6 linked regions of the Homo sapiens genome follow. The protein of the gene in region 4 purifies or fractionates together with the protein of the main gene of each other region. This does not show direct contact. Each region holds a gene or a part of one and is shown on either strand. Other genes may lie near its edges.

Evidence for each region.
Region 1: the proteins of DCP1B (region 4) and E2F7 purify together in Homo sapiens (affinity purification with mass spectrometry; one study listed by BioGRID and IntAct). This does not show direct contact.
Region 2: the proteins of DCP1B (region 4) and TNRC6B purify together in Homo sapiens (affinity purification with mass spectrometry; one large-scale study listed by BioGRID and IntAct). This does not show direct contact.
Region 3: the proteins of DCP1B (region 4) and LSM14A purify together in Homo sapiens (affinity purification with mass spectrometry, with the first as the bait; one large-scale study listed by BioGRID). This does not show direct contact.
Region 5: the proteins of DCP1B (region 4) and MAP1B fractionate together in Homo sapiens (co-fractionation; one large-scale study listed by IntAct). This does not show direct contact.
Region 6: the proteins of DCP1B (region 4) and NBDY purify together in Homo sapiens (co-immunoprecipitation; one study listed by IntAct). This does not show direct contact.

The regions. Positions count from the first base shown.
Region 1 is NC_000012.12:77,020,751-77,024,160, forward strand, and holds the end of E2F7 (transcription factor E2F7), read right to left. Parts: coding exon 3,265-3,410; 3' UTR 501-3,264; downstream 1-500.
Region 2 is NC_000022.11:40,327,925-40,331,424, reverse strand, and holds part of TNRC6B (trinucleotide repeat-containing gene 6B protein), read right to left. Parts: 3' UTR 1-3,500.
Region 3 is NC_000019.10:34,179,004-34,182,503, reverse strand, and holds part of LSM14A (protein LSM14 homolog A), read right to left. Parts: intron 1-3,500. UniProt on the Homo sapiens protein: Essential for formation of P-bodies, cytoplasmic structures that provide storage sites for translationally inactive mRNAs and protect them from degradation. Acts as a repressor of mRNA translation. May play a role in mitotic spindle assembly.
Region 4 is NC_000012.12:1,945,553-1,949,005, forward strand, and holds the end of DCP1B (mRNA-decapping enzyme 1B), read right to left. Parts: intron 735-3,453; coding exon 654-734; 3' UTR 501-653; downstream 1-500. UniProt on the Homo sapiens protein: May play a role in the degradation of mRNAs, both in normal mRNA turnover and in nonsense-mediated mRNA decay. May remove the 7-methyl guanine cap structure from mRNA molecules, yielding a 5'-phosphorylated mRNA fragment and 7m-GDP.
Region 5 is NC_000005.10:72,197,975-72,201,474, reverse strand, and holds part of MAP1B (microtubule-associated protein 1B), read right to left. Parts: coding exon 1,108-3,500; intron 1-1,107. UniProt on the Homo sapiens protein: Facilitates tyrosination of alpha-tubulin in neuronal microtubules. Phosphorylated MAP1B is required for proper microtubule dynamics and plays a role in the cytoskeletal changes that accompany neuronal differentiation and neurite extension.
Region 6 is NC_000023.11:56,735,061-56,738,560, forward strand, and holds part of NBDY (negative regulator of P-body association), read left to right. Parts: intron 1-1,727; exon of another isoform or gene 1,728-2,524; intron 2,525-3,500. UniProt on the Homo sapiens protein: Promotes dispersal of P-body components and is likely to play a role in the mRNA decapping process.

The sequences.
Region 1 (3,410 bases), about 75 Mb from region 4:
TTTAGCAGGGGAGTCCGACAACAGTGCAACATAGATCACTCTGGAGATATAAAGAGCTAGGGGGACATCAGATTAAGTCTTCTTGCAGGTCAATTTAAAAGTAAGGCTAACAATAGAAATTGGCTCTCAATGAAAGGTGGGCATTAGCTAAAATGAGAAGCATTTGACTTAATGGATGCTACAAGAAGTTGAGGGGTGGTCTGCATTTACCTGTGATTCCTAGACTGGATAAACATCAGAATCATCTGGAAGCTCCAAACCTACAGAGATTGGGACTTAGTAGAAATCAGAAGCTCAGTTACACAGTACCTGAACCCCCGCAAGCTCCCATGTAATTCTGATGCACTAAGATTCAGCATTTAGCAACCACGGGGTGATCTCAGCAAAAAGATCTGACTTGTGTTTATGAGGGCCTGGTTGGCTATGTTGTAGCTGTTAATGGTTTTACTCAAAACAGTATGCAAAAAAAGCCTACCAAAAAATACAACCACCATCTCTTCTTAAATGAATTATTTTTTATTGCTATTTTATAAAGCTTAATATTTTCCTAAAAATATTAGAAAAAAAATCAGAACAAAAAATCAGTTTACATGTAGTACAGTTACAAGTAAATAGCTATAGATAATATAGCCATTAGGAAAAAGAGCAGAGCTAAATAATAAGAAAACAAAAGCAGTAAGCAGCAATAAAATTAATACCTACATACAACTAGCAGTGCAATAAGATAAGCAGAAAGCAGCTTTACGTTAAAAGAAAGTTATTTAAATACAGAAATAGCACCTTACAAAAAGGAATTGAGAAATGTAAACTTGGTAGGTAGATTCAAGTATAAAAGTTATACCCCCGACTCTTGTACCAGAATGAAAGGGTTTTACAAACCCTGGTCAGTGTAGGGCACACACAGCCTCTGTGACAACTCAAAAAAGCTGCATTCTCTTAGTAGGACCACCAACGATTATTTTTTTCTTTTACTAAATTATACAATAATAGACTCAAGATTGCCATTGCTTCTTCACTACCCAAAATATCCAAGTCTAGCGCAGCAGCTTCAATTCCACCAGTTGTTCTGTAAGATTTATTTTCCTGACAGAAACAACCACTGCATTATTATTTTTACATATAAAGCCACATTAAGAAGTGGATACTGAATACAGAAGCAATTGTCCTTGGTTTTCTACTCCTAAGAATGGTCACCAAGTCATAATATCCTCACCAATGGGACTGCTTCTTAACACCCCTCAGGAATTATGAATTCTGAGGTTAAATGGTCATATCATGATCAGAATAATAAAAAAAGATAGCAAAAATGTTAAAACAAGTATAGAGCATTCAGGAACAGTGAGGGGAAAAGCAATTTCTGTTTCCGTCTAAATGCAGACCTCTCCATGAAATATTTTGTGGAAGTTCTTAAGCATGGTAGAATTAACATGCATATACCCTGCACAGATTGAAACCTGAAAAAGGTATATTTTTATTTGTTTTGATAGGGAACCCATCAGTTTTAGTTCAGGGTCATTTAACCATGCAATTGTTGATGGTTAGAACCACATTTTTAACCTAACTCTATAGAAGACTGTAAAAAAGAAAAAAAAAACTTGTAAACTTTAAAAGTTTAGTGTTGATAAAAATTTTTATATAAGTAGCAAATTTATTTAATGTAGCTACCTACCTCAAGTTTTAAAAAATCTTGTGGGGGTAATAAGGCTAATATTATCCTGTAGTTAATATAAAGCTACTTTATTCAGACTCCCAGAGTCTCTTAAATTAATATTTTCATTCTTTCATATAACATTTTATTGGGTCAAAAAATAAAAATAAAATAAAACCCTACACCAGGATTCTACATCTAAGATAGTTTTAAGAGAGGAAGAGGAAGGAAGAAAAGAAGTAGGAAGGAGGGAAGGAAGAGAGAATGAAGGAAAGTAGGAAGGAAAGAAGGGAACCATTTACTCTGAAGAGACAAGAGAGAGGTAAATATCAGCAAGTCTAGGAATACAAAGAACTAGTATAGTTTGGCGACTTAATGCACCCCTAAAGTAATGTGGGTTAAAAAAGGGAAATTGCATAACAGTTTCCAGAATTGTATTCATGCTAGAACAACCAACCCGTGCGCTCACCATTCTCATTTTTCAGAGGTACCAACTAACTACAGTTTGAATACCCTTGGATATGAAACATATGTCCATTTTCCCTCTTACTCTTCTGGACATGAAGTAGAAGAAAAACAAAAGAATCATCTCTTGCCCTGTATCAATTTTCACATCATTACTCTTCAGAATTCAACGAAAAGGTCTCATCCAGGTTCCAATTTTCCATATAATCACTTTCTACCATCCTGATTTATTTTACAAACAGCAATTGTTAGAAGGCATCCATATCTGATGGCGCTACAGCTAAATATTTAAATAAAAAATGCAGGGCATGTAGTGAAGGAAACTGGGCACAGTAGGATTTTTAGAAACAAACAGTAATATCTCACTGTTCACACAGTTATTTGAGAAGCAGCAGTTAGGCTGCTAGAGTTCTAGAGTTCATCTTTGTTCTCAAGCCCACAGTCAGGGTTAGCACAGTTCATTTACAGCAAGGTGTGTCATTCACAGTTATTTTGGTCTTGACATGTGTCATGTAGATACATTTATCCACATTATTACTAGGTTGTAAAATAAGTGCAGGGCAAATTATAGAATAAAAGTATAAACATTCAAGTCGTCATACCCTGAAAAAAATGTGTTAAAGACTGTAGTTGTAAACTTTTTGCACTAAATCCCATTTCAGGAACAAAATAAATAACACCATAGGATTCACAACTGAAGGTGGCTTCCTGATGAAGCCTAAGGAAGCAGTAGCTTTTTTAAACTGCAGAAAGGAAGCTTCTCTCACCACAGATTTACTCAGGGCAAGTGGAAATACATGTTAAGAATGCTTACCCTAGTTAAGTGCTAGACAGCGCCCCCCTTTAGAAAAACAAGGCTCCGGTAGCCTATTCAGATCTACTTCCAGAATAAGACGATTCTTGAATCAAAACCATAAGTCAGTCGGCGCTTTCACTGTGACACCATGCAGAGTCGGAACTCTAACTGGTATTAAATGCACAATTAATTACTTTCAGGAAATCAGATGATTGATGGTGGTGGGAAGTTAACAGAAGTGTGGATGAAAGAGAGAGGAAGGACCCGTGCTCAGGACGGGATGGTTTGCATCCCGCCTCGGACATCCGGGACTCTCAGGGCGTTTGATCCCACCCCCACCTGGCAAAGCGGCAGGTTAGTCAGCGCCGCCGCTGGGGATTTCTAGTCTCCTCTGGGCCGAGCTGGTGTTTCGTGACTGGTTCCTTTCTCTTCTCTTCAGGACAGGGTCTCCAAGGCTGCCGGGTGTCTTGAAAAACGTCTCACGATGTGTGCGTTGGATGC
Region 2 (3,500 bases), on a different chromosome or scaffold from region 4:
TTTAGAAGATAGGAGTGGGGAGAAGAGGTGAAATTGTTTAAAACATAAAAACAAATAAAGACACTGCAGATTTCTGTGTTCAACTATAATAGCTCTGAAGAAATAAAATATGATTTCAGATTTTTCTCTTTTCTTTCTCAAACACTTCAATCTTAACTCTTCAAAACCCCTTTTCCTTGTGTGTAATACCCTGTTTGCATCAACAGCAACGTGATGTGACGCCCATGTGGGAATGTAATGGCCGCCTCAGGACACAGACTCAAAGGGTAAAAGCGTGCTGCCCGCTCTGCACACGGCAGAAGCTGGAAAATGCCTTGTTTACATGCATGAATGTGTCACAAGTATCACCATATTCCAATTCTCCAGTGCTTACAGAAAAACAAAAAACAAAACAGCCAAAGCCACATGAGCACAAACATACAGACGGAGAAAACTAGGGAATGCAGATGTGTAAACCTGCGCTCTTGGACTAACGTGGGTCTGCGTCGCCTGGGTACCTTCCCCTGTCTCCTCTCCCAAGTCCCAGAATCTCTTCCACTCAACTCTACACTGTGCAATATTGATGCTAATGAAATCTCAACAGCTGCTCCTGGGACTTCCAGGAGGAACTTTGACTTCCCTAATGACTAAAGCTGACCGTCTGTTTGTTTGTATCCAACGGATAGCTTCTTCCTAGAACGGACGGTCTCTGTACTCACAAAGGCACATTCAGAAATACTATACTTAAGTAATTCCTTAGACAAAATTTAAAAAGGGCGGTGGATGATGTTTTAAACACATTTATTCCAACTTATCCCAAAATTTCTGGCAAGAAGTGTCATGCTAAAATGCATCACTTGGTGAGAAACTATACTACCTTTAAAAGGTATGTAACTTCTTAAAGGGTTCCAAAGGTTTTTATTTTGTTTTGCCTAAATACCCACCTTTCCCATTTTTGGCGAACACACATAGGATGTACTGTCCTCCTCTCTGTAAAGCTCTTCTGTAGGGCTAGTCCTGGCAATAAGGCCACTCCACTTTGCCTCCAGTCAACTTTTACAGCCACCCCTCTGGGAGTTGTACACACCTTTCAGTAGCCGAAGGGGAAGGAACGCCAGATTCCGGAAGGCGGGAGAGAAAGCAAAGCACTTCCTTTCACAGCTCTGCTACAACAGCATCATAAGCCACCTTGACAACTTTCTTTTGCAGCTTACTGTGAGCAGTAAAGAGGAATTTCCCTTTTTGAAAAAAAAGAAAAAAACAAAAACCATCCCAACTTGTTGATATTGGCTAGATATGGGTCAATTATAATTGGGAATTTATTTCCAAAGCAATGATTTACAGTTTAAAAATGAAGTTGAGGCACAAAGTGCTTTAAACGGACACTATTTATTCTTTATTTAAAACAGAGTACTTCTTGCCTATTTATCTGATCTTTCCCCTCCCATGAACAAGATAAGCATTTGTCACAGTGAAGAACTGAAGACTGAGCTTTTTGCAAAGACCCTTTGGCCAAGGTAGTACCATTTTTCCTGGCCATGTACAGTTTCTTGTTAAAAACAAATTCAGGTATATAGCTAACTGAAAAGGGAACGATTTAAATTTGGTGAGGCAAACACTGGCAGTTACTGCAACTTTCGTTACTTTTTTGGGTGGCGGTAGGAGGTTATGACAAGAGACTGACAGCTTAAAAACTACTCAAATATTAGGGGTATGCCACAATCACTCGGGATCTGGTCCCGGTGGCCACACGCATGCGGGCAGTGTGGGTGCTGAGCTGCTGGAGGAGTAGCTCTCCACTCCCTGACCTGTGTCCCCCTTTACCACCTCGTAGGTTCATGGCCTCTTTCTTCAGAGGCATGGGGTGGGGAGGTATGGTGAGCAGGTTAGGGAGGGTCGATGTTGAATTTTTATTGTTATTACTATGTTCACAGATTCTTGGAGCTGATAATTATTTCAAATCTAAAGAATGTGATATTACCACCCCCTTTGTCAAACTTAAGAAAAAAAAAACACTATCACTGACAAATAGGGACCATTTCTGAAAATACACACACCTTTGGCGCTGGCCACAAACCCACAGACTGTTATCACAGGGTCTGCACTAACTCTGGAAATCTAGATAATATTCTGTTTTCTTACAGAATGACAATGTCCTCAATAGCATTATGTGTATCTGTGTGTTTCTTGACTGTATGGACTCCCTGTACTTGCAGATAAAGAAGTAAATGTAGTGCGCAGCAGGGTTTGTGAGTTCCCTATTTTCTTAACGACCATGAGGTCTGAAGACTGACAATTCATTGTATACACACAGACCAGAATATTTTCATCCGCATCATCACGCGGCTTTAGTTGTCCACTCACAGGAGGAAAAACACAATTAAAGAACAAGGCTTTTTTTTGTTTTGTTTTTGTTTTTTTTTTTTGCAGTAACACTAAGAAGTATAGTTAATGCATACACATGAAGTGTGACAAAACTTGGCAAAAACACTGCAGAGGAAAGTTTGATTTTTTTTAACCAGCGAAAAATTTATCTCACTTCTAAAGATCTTATAGATACTTAAAAACAAAAATCTCAAATCTAAAACAATAACCGATAAAGCTTTAAATGTTGAATTTTAACTCTGAGGATGGGGAAAAAATGGATCTTTTCTACATAAAGACTCAATTGTTCCCTAATCTTAGAGATGGCTATTAGAGCCAAGTCTGCTGAAAACATCCTGTTTACTCTGCAGAGAAAAACAGGCTTGGCGTAAGCATTTTGCTCAGCATGCAGACATTTTCATTCTGTTTTAGAGAAGAGTCAAGATGGCAGAATATAAAAAATGAAATTAAAAAGTACACAGCATCTGAGGTCAAAATGGAATCTGGCTGTTAACCTTACAAAAATCACCCCCTCACCCAAAAAAAAAAGTGGTAAAAATGAGTGAATAGTTGCAAAAAGTTAACAGCCTATGAGCTTCTAGTTTCTGCGAGATATATGTGTTAATAAAGGTGCTTCCAAATTCTCAGGCAGGAGTTTTATCTTTTCCTTTCTTTTTCCTCTTGCATACCTTCTATACCATATTCAACCCACAGGAGTTTGGAAGAACCGATTGCTAACTTATGCTACATTCATGTCAGAAGAGGTGGGAAAATTCTTACAACAGGAGCCATACTCATAGGAAATCAAGTTGCTATAAATAAAACTAACTAGCAATAAATGGATAAGTGATTTATTGGGGGGACACTGATTAAATAATTTGGTTTGGAACCTTAACTTGCAACACTGCTAAGTTAACTCCTATGAATGTTGTAAATGAAACACGTCCAGGGTTGGGGACTGAGGGATCAGAGATGTTACATGAGCCATCCATTTCTTCACAGTGTCTCAGAGATCTGAACTCTTTTCCACACTTAAAGTTAGGTCATGATACTGGATCTAATTGACAGCAGAGGTCCTCTGTCTGGTGTGAGACACCCCTTTCTCTATTAGTGCTTCTTTTCTTTTGGCTACTCGTGTGGTAGGTAGAAACCAAGTT
Region 3 (3,500 bases), on a different chromosome or scaffold from region 4:
AATCAAACCAAACCAAAAAACAAACAAACAACAACAAACCAGTGTGATCACATTTGTGAATTCCAGGAATAGAGAATTCTAAATAAAAGCTTCCAGAGAGAAAAGTGACTGAGAGTCAGACTGGCATCAGCAACCCCAGAATATTAGAAGAACAAAAAGCAGTAACTTCAAAGTTCCACAGAAAAAAGACTCTTAATTTGGAAATACATAGCCAACCAACCAGTCAAGCACAAGAAAACATAGGTTCACTAAGAAAATTTGTCACCTACATTTCCCATATATTTTATTTTTTAATTACAAAGATTCACTCAAGTAAAATTGGGAGGAGGAGAAAGAATCAACTGAGAGGTCAATATTGGAAACAAGAAACAGGAATCTGAGTATCTCTGAATAGACTAGTGAGAGATAATGGACCAGGGTAGTAGGGGTGGTCAGAGGTCAAATTCTGCATCTAGTTTGAAAGCAGAGCTGATAGGTTCGGATCACATGAGGTGAGACAGAGAGAGAGGAATTAAGGATGGCTCCAAGGTGTTTTGGTCTTACCAACTAGAATAGAGCTGTCATTTGATTAGATGGGGAAGGCTGATGGAGGAACAGGTTTGGAGCATGCTGAATTGAGATTCTAGCAGACTTCCCTACAAGTAGAGATGTTAAAGAGGCAATGGATATACAAGTCAGGAGTTCAGAGGAGAAATTCAGGCTAGAGATAGGAGTCAGTGATATACAGGTAGTATTTGAAACCAGGAACTAGATGGATGAGATCATCAAAAGAATGCAGATGATTAAATAAATGTTAACAGACAGAGAGAAAAGGGGAGATAACTGAGCCCTGGAGCTCTCCCAACATTTGGCGGCTTACAGGTTCAATCAGCCAAGGAGATTGAGAGGTAACCAGTGAGATATGAGGAAAAAAATGGCATACGATCAAGTTAAGAAAATGCTTCACAGAGAACAGACTAACTGTACCACGTAATGCTGACTGGTGAAGTAGAATGAGACTAAGAACTAACTACTGGATTTGGTAACATGGAAATCTTTGGTAATTTTGATAAGAAAACTTCATATGTAGGAATAAAAACCTTAGTAAACAGGGCTCAAAAATGAATGAACACCAGTGGTGTAGACAACTTCTTCAAGGGGTTTCGCTATAAAGGGAAGGATAGAAATGGGGTAATCATTAGAAAAGAGGAAATTCAGTTCAAGTACAGTGGGGTTTTTTGGTTGTTCTTAAGGTAGAAGAAATAACTGCCTATCTGTAAGCAGACAGAAAGATACGTTAGGGAAGGAAAAACTGAGGAGAGTAGAGAACTGCTGGAGCAATGTTCTTGAATCACCAAGAGGGGACAAATGCTGCACAAGTGGAAGGGTGGTCTTAGACAGAAATAAGAACAGTTTATCCATATTGATCAGAAAAAAACATAGAAGTCTGGGGAACAGATGCAGGTAACTGGGTATGTGAGGGGTAAGTTTATCAAAATTATCTTTCGTTTGCTGTTCTTTTCTCAGTTAACTGCTATAGAAAGCACGGTTAAGGGGCTGAAAGTGAATATGGGGGAGGTGTTGGAGGCTTGAGGAAAATGAATGGAATAGCCATGTAGAAAAGTGAAATGGATTATGGAAGTATAGTGTGACTGCTAGGAAGTGACCATGACTGCGGAGGCTAGCGAACATAAATTTAGAGTGAGGCTGGTCAGCACATCTGTGTTGATATAATCAGGGTTGTGATTTCTTGTATAAGACAGCAAGAGGGGAATGGGGTGGGGGCTGAGGGAATGTGTACTGACTGTCGTGGTTGCTCATGGAGTTGAAGCAGGATAAAGAAGGAAGTAAAGTTATGAGGGGAATGAGAGGACAGTGAAAGGCAGTAAGATGACAGTAGACTACAGTAGGTGTGAATGACTGACTGAGTTGGGCTACTAGAGAGACTGAGCACCTAGACAGAGAGGGAGATCGTGGTGGGAAATAACATGGGACAGCTATTCTCTATTAAGCACCAACATTAAACTAGTTACTTCTTTTATATCACCTCATTTAATTATCAGAATGACTCTGAAAGATGGGCATTATTATCCATCCCTATTGAAAAGATGAAGAAGTTAAAGCTAAGGTTAAATAACTTGTCCAAGACCAAAAAGCTGCTAAGTATTCCAACTGGCATTTTGGGTCGCATTTTCTTCCAGAAAAAAACAAACAAACAAAAAACCCTACAAAACTAGAATAAGGCCCTTGGGAATAAATTATTTTACAGACCAACTCACACTTTGTCCACTAAAAAACTTACTTCAAGCCAGACACTGTGGCTCACACCTGTAATCCCAGCACTTTGGGAGGCCAAGGCAGGCAGATCACTTGAGCCCAGGAGTTAGAGACCGACCTGGGCAGCATGGCAAAACCCTGTATCTACAAAAAACAGAAAATTAGCTGGGTGTGGTGGTGTGTGCCTGTGGTCCCAGCTACTTGGGAGGCTGAGGCAGGAGGATTACCTGAGCCCAGGGAGGTCAAGGCTGTGATCGTGCCACTGCACTCCAGCCTGGGCAACAGAGTGAGACTCTTGTCTCAAAACAACAACAACAAAATTTACTTCAATGGTATCTAGTTTTTAAAACAGCTAATTAATATATTATTTTATAGCATCATGAGAGAAAGACAAATTGTTTCTATAGCAAGCATCTTCTAGCACGGAATAATTAAATTCAAGTTAAACTATCTGTAGTTACTGCTATTATTACTGTGGCACTGAGTTAAATACAAAACTCCTGCTATGTATCATGCACAGATAAGATTTCTTTTTTCTTCCTACTTCCTTCCTTCTACTATTTTTTTTCTTCAGTTTTATGCTGTTTTCTTTACTTCCGACTTAGAAAATCATGGCTTACCTTACTTACCCCTACTAGAAAATGAACAGTTTCTGGCACCTGACTTCAGACTCCCAGAATTACCAAGTATTTCTGCGGACTATGTAACAATAATAAACTGTTTCCAAGGCTCCAAGTACTGGCAACATCACTAAATAGGGCAACAAAAAGAAACTGTGGCTTGAAGTTTCACTAGATCTTTGTCATTTTAGATAGTAATTTTGTGAATTGCTAGATTTAGATCCCCAAGTAATGCAAGAAATCAAATAAAGCACCCCGCAAGTATTTTATCCATCACACAAAGCTCTTCCACTCTCTCCAATAAGGTAATAGTTTATGACTATGTGACTAACATCAAGAAGTAGATAAATTATGCCAATGAGCCAGACTTAGCAGATGATTAAAGAAATCTGTTAACAATTTACTTGTTTTTCTATTCTTCCACCAATCTCTTGATTTTAAGAACAACTTATTTTAAAGGCAAGTGGCTTATATAATCGTTCTTCATAAAGTCTCTTTTCCCAGTGCAGTAGCAACCTGGTTTCCATTTGAATGATTATCCAGGTAAGCTAACTAAATGTAAGAATTTATTTTTTATAAGAATTTCATTCATTTTAGCCTATTTAGGCATCCTACTCACTTATA
Region 4 (3,453 bases):
TATCATTCCACTATCAAGACACATGCACACGTATGTTTATTGCAGCACTATTCACAATAGCAAAGACTTGGAACCAACCCAAATGTCCATTAATGATAGACTGGATAAAGAAAATACGGCATATATACACCCAGGGAATACTATGCAGCCATAAAAAAGAATGAGTTCTTGTCCTTTGCAGGGGCATGGATGAAGCTGGAAACCATCATTCTCAGCAAACTAACAAAGTAACAGAAAACCAAACACCACATGTTCTCACTCACAGGTGGGAATTGAACAATGAGAACACACGGACATAGGGAGGGGAACATCACACACTGGGGTCTGTCGCGGGGTGGGGGACTAGGGGAGGAAGCGCGTTAGGAGAAATACTAATGTAGATGATGGGTTGATGGGTGCAGCAAACCACCATGGCATGTGTATACCTATGTAACAAACCTGCATGTTCTGTACATGTACCCCAGAACTTAAAGTATAATAATAATTAAAAAACACTTGAGTATAAAAAAAAGTCTGAAACATTTTACTTCATATTACACATACTTTTTTTTTAAAAAAGGCAGAAACATTGAAGGAAACAACACTCAACATGAAAGAACCTTGTGCCGGAGTTCTAGAAGGACCTTGAAAATCAGTTTTAAAAGGCCTTGCTGTCACATAGTCTTTTTCATGGCTGCTTGAGTCATGCTGAAGAGATAGGCTTCATAGATTATATTTAAGAAGTTGTCATCATTCTGGAAAACAAATCGAAAGACCCAAGAGAATGTTACTTGGTTGGCAGACACAAAAGGCTTCCTCTGTCTTAGAGCTGAACTGGCCTTTGGATACTGAGACACTCATCTCTCCCTGTCTAACAGCTGGTGGTTTTTAATTGCATGTGTGAATGTTAAGTGGGGTTGACGGCAAGGCCGGACAGAGCTGATGGTTTTCCATGGTCAGTATGCACAGCAGCAAGAGCTCATTACATGCAGCACAGATGGGCAGCCCAGACACATGGCAGCATGGAGCAAGGTTTACTCAAGAACAGCCTGGGTCTGCTGCATGAAAAGACATGAAGCCCCAGCAGACAGAGGAGTTAGGAGGACATGATCCAAGTCAGTGGTCTCAAAGTTTGGTTAAGAGATTGCTGTGGTGTGTTTTTTTGTTTCTTGTTTTTTGGGTTTTTGAGACTGGGTCTCACTCTGTCACCCAAGCTAAAGTGCAGTAGTGCCATCATAGCTCACTGCAGCCTCAACCTCATGGGTTCAAGCGATCCTCCCACCTCAGCCTCCAGAGTAGCTAGGGCTACAGGTGCGTGCTACCATGCCTGGCTTTTAAGTTTTTTGTTAAGACAGGGTCTCACTATGTTGCTCAGGGTGGTCTTGAACTCCTGGGCTCAAGTGAGCCTCCCACTTTGGCCTCCCCAAGTGTTGGATTACAGGCATGAGCCACTGTGGTTCTTAAAGGCCCTCCAAGTCACCTACAATGTGTCTGCTTTGTTTTGGGCATTACTTAGGATTTTACTTGCAATATGCTTCATCAGTACTTCATCAAAGCTAATATAAGTCTTCCCATAAGTTATGGAAAGTTTCTAGCCTTGGCAAGTGGGCAGGAGTAAGACTGGTAATCTCTGGGCTCTTTTGCCTGGCTAAGGAGTGAGAATCACGGTCTAATCAGTGGTTTTCCTCATGTTTTAATTCTAGAGACTTCTCCCTCCCACCCAAATTCTTTACAGTGTTAGTAATTCACCCACACTTCACATTCCCCCTTCATTCCCTCTTGGCACCCCACACAGATTTAGCATCATTCTCATGCAATGAAGAGAGTGATGTTATCCCTCTTTTTCCTGCAAAGTAGTCACAAAGTTCCTCTGCATGAGATTGTGTCCTAACAAGAGGCAGAAACTAAAAACAGACTGCTTGAGTGACTGGGAATATGAGGTGTGGTACACGGGAAGAAGTAAAATGCACGCAGAGTGGAGGGCAGGGGAATGTAATTTCTAATCCGCCATGTTCAGCCACTACTCTGGAGTAGAGTCTCAAGACAATGTGAAGGGAATCAGCCAGAAAACATATGGATCTTTTAAATTACAACTTAAGAAACTGGCTCAAAGTAAAGAGGTTCACAGATGTCTAATTCCTCCTGAGCTTACTATGAATAGCTTTAAAAGGTGGCAAATATTTTTATCCTGATATTTACTTATGAATTAGTAGGGCTCAATCATTTGCTGTTGACCTTATTTATCTCTGATTGTTATTATGCTTCTGCTGACTTCTAGCCCCATTCCTTTCATTCTTCCTCAAACATGTTTCCTTCTTTTGTAGTCTCGCTATGTTGCTCAGGCTGGTCTTGAACTCCTGGCCTCAAGCAATGCTCCCACCTTGGCTTCCCAAAGTGCTGGGATTACAGGCGTGAGCAGCCACTGTGCCCGGCCAACATGGAACCTTTTTAAAAATGTTGTACTAATTGAGACCACTGTCTTTTTAAGTAGGATAAGACAACCGCAGAAGGGCTGGCCTGCTCTCTAAAGGCCGTCTGATGCTTAAGCAAAGTACCACACAAGTTTTCTTAAAGATTATCTACCAAAAAGACACCTAAATATGTTAACTGGGGTGTCTGAAGTCTGTCTGGCTACAAATGTTCCACTTTTCAAGGACTGCCGTTGATTTCTTGGGTGTGCTTTGCTAGGGCACCTGTGCTGAATGTTCTCCCGAGGCTGGTCCCTGCCAACATTCATGTGGTGAACGTGGCCCACGGGAGAGTACGTGGGAAGTGGCACTCGGGGGCCAGGCTGGGTGCATCCCAGCCCTGCTTATGTACGAGCTCCGTGCCTCAGGCCAGTTGCTCAGCCTCAGTTTCCTTGTCTGTAGAATGGGAAAAATAACAGGGTTGTTATGTAAGGAGTGAATGAGTTATATGCTTGTGTGTAGCACTGAAAATAGGGCCCGGCGCCAGCTCTGTGGAGTGTTAGCTATTATAGCACTCATTATTATTTCATAATTTCATAGGCAAGTGAGGCTAGCAGCTCACAAGGAGTCCTGTCACTCCATCCCGTCCTAATGAGCAGGTTTCAAAATGACTTGTAAAACATACCTGTAGCAGCCATGGCCATTATTTGCTTCCCTCCCTGTTTTCCACTCGCTCAGTGGCCTCTTCCCCACTCAACAGATGGCCCCTTGCCCAGGACTGCTCCCACCTCTACCTCCCAATGGTGAGTTTTCTGTCTGGGCCTCCAGCACCCAGGGTCCTCTCAGGGACTGCTTAATCCCCAGCATATGCTTCCTTCTCTTCTGACAGGTGACAGCTTGGAGGCCTTAGACAGTCCTTCAAATTACAAAATCCTTGAAGAGCTGAGACACCCAAGCCACACTTGGTATTATAAATAACACCTAGCTAACTGAGCACAGAAGCCGCTGGGGTCAGGATGAGTTGTTACACACACCTGTTATTCTCACGGAAGCTAAGCAGGCCTTG
Region 5 (3,500 bases), on a different chromosome or scaffold from region 4:
TAAATCTGAGAATCATGACCAAAAACATGAATGATCAAAAATCAGGGATACCTGCTCTTGCCAAGTGGCATTTCATTTGCTTATTTATTTATTTTTGAGAGACAGGGTCTTGCTCTGTCACCCAGGCTTGGCATGCAGTGATACATACAATTCTGGCTCACTGCAGCCTTGATCTCTTGGGCTGAAGTGATCCTCCTGCCTCAGCCTCCCAAGTAGCTAAGACTATAAGCACGTGCCACCACACCCAGCTAATTAAAAAACATTTTTTTTTTTTTGTGGAGACAGGGTCTTGCTATGTTGCACAGGCTGGTCTCAACTTCCTGGGCTGAAGCTAACCTTCCATCTCAGCCTCCCAAAGTGCTGAAATTACAGGCATGAGGCCATGCATCTAGCTTCCCAGTGGAATTTTAATCTGAAATAGCATTGAGTCTCTACTAATGAGGCCATGGGGTAAGAGAAGGGTAAGAGCAGAGCCATCAATGTTTTTCTCTCAATTTTCACCGGACACTCACTGGTCAACTGAAATTATAGTATTTTTTGGCTGATAAGAAAATGGAACACTGCCTTTAATGAGGATTTATCTCCAACCTGGTGATGTTTTAAATAAAAATGTAAACATTTTTAATTTAAAAAAAATTTTTTTTAAAAAAGGACTCTAAATCTTGGGTCTAGACTGGTTGATCCAGTCTTGATGTGAAACCTCTGGTTCTCCTTAGGCCTTTGGGAGCTCCTGGCCTGTGTTACCCTGCTGGATTCTGAGGCCAGTATGGCTGAAACCAGTCTTCCAGAAGCACCTGAAAGACACATCCTTGGTTCTGAAGATTTAGAACAGGGCTGTAGTTGCTGTGTTCGAAAACGGCACAAAATCAGGAATCCCAGTGATGAATCACAGCTGCTTTGAACCATACACTGAGCTATTTCCAAGCCTTAAGGCCACACTGGACTGAGATATATACCTTTGGGCAGAGGAGAAGAGTACAGGGAAGGTAAAGCATCAATTGTGCTCCCTCATCTTCCCAGTACAAAGCCAAACAGGGAAATATAAAGGCTGTAAACGCAAGTAGAATGGTTGTGACATATATCCAATGCCCAGCCTTCTCAACCTACCTGCAGTGGCGGTCTTGGCCGACTTGGATGCAGAGGCATTGGCAGCATTCTTGGTCTCCTTGTCTTTCTCTTCCCCACGTGCAGCTTTGACCTCAGGAGTGGTGGTGGGTTTTGCTGCCTTTTCCACAGATTCTTTCTTCTTAGGAGAAGCCACCCTGGACACTTTATCCGAGGATTCTTTCAAGCCCGCTGGTTTTGGTGAAGCTGCCAAGGGCTTAGACTTCCCATCACTCTTTTTGACAGGTGAAGATGACTTGGTCTTTGTACCTGGCTTTTTGGTTTTGGTCTTCTCTTTCAGATCTTTCTTTAGAGCTTTGCCCAGGTTCTGCTCAATGGCCAAGGCCTCTGGGTCCACCATGGACACATCAGGGTGGCGTGGCGAAGGGCTGCGGTCTTGCACGGGAGCTGGAGGTGGGTCCATGTGTTTGTACGTGACAGTTTTGTCTGTGGGGATGGTTTCCGACTCGTCTTCAGAGTCGATATTGGCATCGGCCGTGATGGAGGGGCACTCTTCAGTCTCCGGGGGAACATCAGAGTCGGTCTGGGATGGGGCTGACTCGCTGACTGAGGTGGGAGGGGTTTCATCACACTGTCGGCCCTGTTGCTTTCCTCCTGGAGGCGGTGGGGCTCCCCCTGATTGAGTGAGGGGCTTTTCAGATTCTTCAGTGGGTTCTTCACTGGCAAACCACTCAAGAGGATTGGGATTAATGAAAGAGGGTGAAAGCTCTGTCTTGGGGTGCTTGTATTCACAAGAGGACACGAGGCATAAATCGACATCCTGACGGGCTTCTGAGGGGGACTTCTTTTCTGCAGTGTAGCATAGGTCTGAAGTCTCGTAGGAATATGTGGATGCCTGAGGGGTTCTAGTGATTTTCTCTGCAGTCTCGTAACAGTATGTGGAAGTATCAGGGGTTCGTGTTGTCTTTGTAGATGTCTCATAGGAATAACCTTCAGACTCAGGGAAACTGGTAATTTTCTCAGTGGTTTCATAAGAGTAGCTGGGGTCCCCAAGTGTGTGGCCACCATCCTCAGAGTCATCATAGCCATTGCTGATGTCATCCAGAAGCCTTCTAGACCTCTCAGTCTTTTCATAGCTGTAACCACTCACTTCGGGGGGGCTGGTGGTCTTTTCACTTATGTCATATGAGTACCCACCCTCTTCAGGGGTCCGTGTGGTCTTCTCAATAATTTCATAGGAATAGTCACCATCTTCAGGGGTCTTGGTAGTTTTCCCAATGGTCTCATAGGAGTAGCCACTGTCACTTGGAGATTTTGTGGTTCTCTCTATCTTCTCATAGTAATAGCCACCCACATCTGAGGTCCGGGTGGTCTTCTCATAAGACTCATAGTCATAATCTTCTTCATCTGGGGACCTGGTTGTTTCCTCAGGCTTTTGATAGGCATAGCTAAAGTCACCAGGTGTCTTCCCTCCACTGTCCTTCTCCAGGCCAGGTGTGGACAAATCTCTATTCAAGGCTAGATGGTGTTGCATTGTATCGAATAACACTGAGGCACGGAAGCCATAGGGCTCTGCGGATGCTGCATCTATTGGTGGAGAAGAGGAACTGTGGCAAGTTGCTGTTTTCTCTTTGACTGCAGAGGTAGAATCTGAAAAAGTAGGTGAATATAAAGGAGAGGACTCTCGTGGGGTGAGTGGAGAGATATCAGATTTTGGAGAGAGCTTCTCTCCTTCCAGACTTTGCACTTTTTCAGAGGTGAGTGAGGCATATAAGGACATATCTCTGGGAGGAGCAACATCGGATAGAGTATCTTCTTGGAGAGGAGAAGCGATCTGAGAAGGGGTATGAGCAGAAGAGGTGGACGGGGAGGCCTCTACCTGAGATACTGAGATGAGCTCAGAAAGATCATTATCTTGGGTGTAGGACGGCTCCTCCATAGGTGGTATCTTATGTGATAAACTGGAGTCCTGCATGTCAGAAGGACTGTAGTCCACTTCAGTTGGCCCATTTTCAGTGATGTGAAGCACGCCTGCACCCACTGTAGGGTGATCTGGAGACTGTCGACTGAAGTCCATAGCAAGGGATTGCTCAGGAGATTCTTGGCCAAATTCAATAGACATTGAGGACTGTTCAGATCTGTGATCTTGAACGGGTGTCCTGGACTTTGCAGTTTTAGGGGAGAAATCTGGTGGAGAAATTGACATCGGTCTTGGGCATTCTTCTTTAGATGGAGACATTTCTGTTTCCTGGAATGTGGTAGGTGTTTGCACAACAGACACTGAAAGGGAGTCATCTACTTCTGTGGAATGTGGGGAGCCAACCTCAGCATGCAGAGATGGAGACACATCATCTGTTGTTGGCTCTGGAAATGAGCTCGTAGCCACTGAGGCTGTGGACACTGAGGCCACACCCTCCATATGAGAGTACGTGTCT
Region 6 (3,500 bases), on a different chromosome or scaffold from region 4:
AGGACAACAAGCCTGTGTGTTTCAGGTACTTTCATGGTGATTTTTCACACAGGACAGCTTTTGATAATAGAAAGGCCCTCTCTTTCAAATGAAAGGACTTCACTGATGGATTAACAAATTCTCACCTTTTCACCTATGTGAGCCAAATACTAGATCTACTTTCTTAGTCTTCATAACAAGCAGGACGATAACCATAATTTATAATGAACACAAAACATTGATATAGTGTTCAAAGAACTTTTGCACACTTGGTCTCGTTTGGAAGAATGAAGTAATCTGGAAACATAGAATAGGCATACACTGTGACTTTAGGAAGAACTCTCACAAAATCAGAGGTTGCCCTATGTAATATCACACTTTTTACCTTGAGCAGGTGGATAGCCTGGGAGTTCTTGTTATACCTCAATCTTGGTCCATTCTATTTGTTCCCCTGTCCTTCAGCAGTGCCCTTAGGCTTGCTTTAAACATTAACAGCATTCATAAGCATGGTTTCTAGGGTCAGAGCCCAGCCTCCCTCCACCCACCCGGCTCCCTACACACCTTGACAGTGCTCTTTGAGATGCCTCAGTTCTAGTCTCCTTGTAATTGTGCACAGTAGATGTCTGAACAAATAGACCAGAGTCCTGCAAAAGTGATCTTGAAATCACAATTAAAAGAGACTTTGGAGAGATCTACTCAGGAAAATTTTCTGAATAGACAAATGCTTTTAAAGGGGGTTCTAGACAGTCCGTCTTTTCTGCCTCCTTCTGCGAAGTAGGGCTACACTAAAACCTTGTCACAATGTGACCTGAGCAAAACCATTATCAAGTGATTTAGTTGTCTTGAACCAGACAAAAGAAAATTGACATGATTTCAAGATAGGTTTAGAAAAATAATCTGACTAGCAAAAAAAAAAAAAAAAATGGGGGGTGGTTCCTAGGGAATATGAGACTTGATATTTTAGCAAAAATTTAAATATGCTCTTTATGATACACACATTTCTCGTTGCTTTACAAATTTTAAATGTAACACAAATTTGTTTTTCACACTGTTTTGTTAGTTGAGGTAAGGCATTCCTGCCGCACGCAGCAATGACTCGTCCTGGAAAACCAGGGAGGCTGCATATCCTACTGTTCCTTCTCTACTAGCTGTGGCTCCACACTCTCACCTCCACCAAAGAAAGCATTTCAGAATTTAGGGGTGGAAATGATGACAACATTGAATAATTCTATTTTTTTCTTTTTTTTGAGACAGAGCCACTGTCGCTCAGGCTGAAGTGCAGTGGCGCAATCTAGGCCCACTGCAGCCTCCGCCCCCCGGGGTCAAGCAATTCTCCTGCCGCAGCCTCCCAAACAGCTGGGACCACCGGTGCCCGCCACCATGCCCGGCCAATTTTCCGCATCCCTAGTAGAGACGGGGTTTCACCATGTTGGTCAGGCTGATCTCAAATTCCTGACCTCAGGAGATCTGCCTGCCTCGGCCTCCCAAAGTGCTGGGACCACAGGCGTGAGCCACCACGCCCGGCCAATGATTCTAATTTATATTTTTAAAAATTACCTTATAATCTTAAAACTTTTAACTGATGAGTATCCAACCCTTAAACTTTATAACAATCATTTCCAAAGTGGAAAAGTCACTGGGATATGGGGAAAAGTATGATTTGTTTTTGTACTTCTATTTTTCTAATGTCTACTTTTTGTTTTCTAGTCTACATGTTAGCACAGGAGTATATATATTACTTAAGTATACCTATGTTGGAGTGCATACAGAATTTCTTTTTAAATGATAGGATGCAAAATCAAATCTATTTGGATAGCAGTGAAGAGGCTGTTTTTCAATCCTGGCAAACTAGGGGGTGCATACCCCCTTTTTTATTTAGTAGCTTCCATAAGGCTATAACTCATGGAAGTTACATCCTTACATAAACTGATGGGCTATCCAACCAGTGAGGAAAACTGATAAAGTGGCCTCTGAGCTCCAGGAAGTAGTTAAACACTACTAAAAACATCTTGAAAATTTGGAAAAAAATTTAACAGTAAATGGATTCAGTAGTTATTCAGTATAAGGTTTGGAATAACTCCAGCCATTACAATAGACATTTATTTAAAGTAAAACATCTGCAGACCAAATAATTCTTAAAATTGTTTGTTTCAAGTTTAACCATCTTCATAACAGCTGCATCCACAGACTTCAACTACATGATTACTTCTTTGCCCATTCTTCTCTTTCTTTTCTTTCCCGAATAACCTCTTGCACATACAGTTCAAGGTAGAAATTTTCCTCTTCATATTTGGTCCACTGCTCTTTAGGCAAGATCTGATGCTTCATGGTCAGGTCCAATGCACTCTTAATGTGACACATCCTGTCATTATAAAGGTTCTCAGGAAGCCTTCTTATGGCTTCTTTTATGTCTTCATCCTCATATATTGTATCATCTCTCATTAACCCCAGTTTATTGAATCCTGCAGTATTGTAATACCATTTTCGAATACCATCCAGCCACTTGCCTGATGCTGAAATGGCCTGCTTGCCAGCCATTTTGACCTGCTTTAATTTTTTTTAATCCTTCTTATAACAAGATACAAAAATTATACACTGGCTGCTCATCCCAACAGAATTTGGCAATATAAAACATTTTCTTTCATTAAATACATAGAAAAAGTGTGGTTATTGATATTTATTGATGTAGTTATTATTGAATTTTATATTTGTGTTTTTAAAATTTTTATTTTTATTTAATTTCACACTTGAAAAACCAGGAATATTACAAAGAACTCCCAGAATGTCCTTTACCCAGATTCACCAATTAACATTTTATCACGTTTGCCTTATCATTCTGTTTTTCTCTTCCTCTCCTCCTTCTCCTATTTGACAGTAGTTTGCAAATATCATTCTCCTTTACCTCTTAATATGTCAGTGTGTATTTCCTCAGAATGATGATTTCCTCTTATACATCCTCAGTAAATGTGTCACAATCAAGAAATTTGACATTGTTTCAATATCATAATCTACGCCATATTCCAATGTTATCAGTTGTCCCAATAATGTCTTTTGTGGTTATTTTCTTTCCTTGGTCAAAGTGCTAATCCAAGATGATGCATTACATTTACTTGTCATGTCTCTTCAGTTTTTAATATGGAACAATTCCTTGACCTTTCTTTGTCTTTTATGTTTATAGAAAAACAAACTTAGTTTCTCTCATTATATTCTCACAACCCCACTTCTGACACTGATTGTGTGGAAAAAAAGTTTTTCTTTGGCTCTTGTACCACAGCAACCAACACAGAAAGCTTGTGAACAAATGTATTGGGATTTTTTCTCACCGACAGGCAAGTAAACAATTCTGCAGTGGACACCAGCTGGGTGTTCTCCAATCCAATTCAATTCTGAAGCTATCTCCCTACAGAAAGTATCAGATCCCACAGATTGAGGGCTTAGTCCCACGAGACTGCCTCAACTTTAGACATCAGTTTCAAATCTGGGCCTCTGGAACTTTTAACTGACCAGCTTCAAGTTAGGGT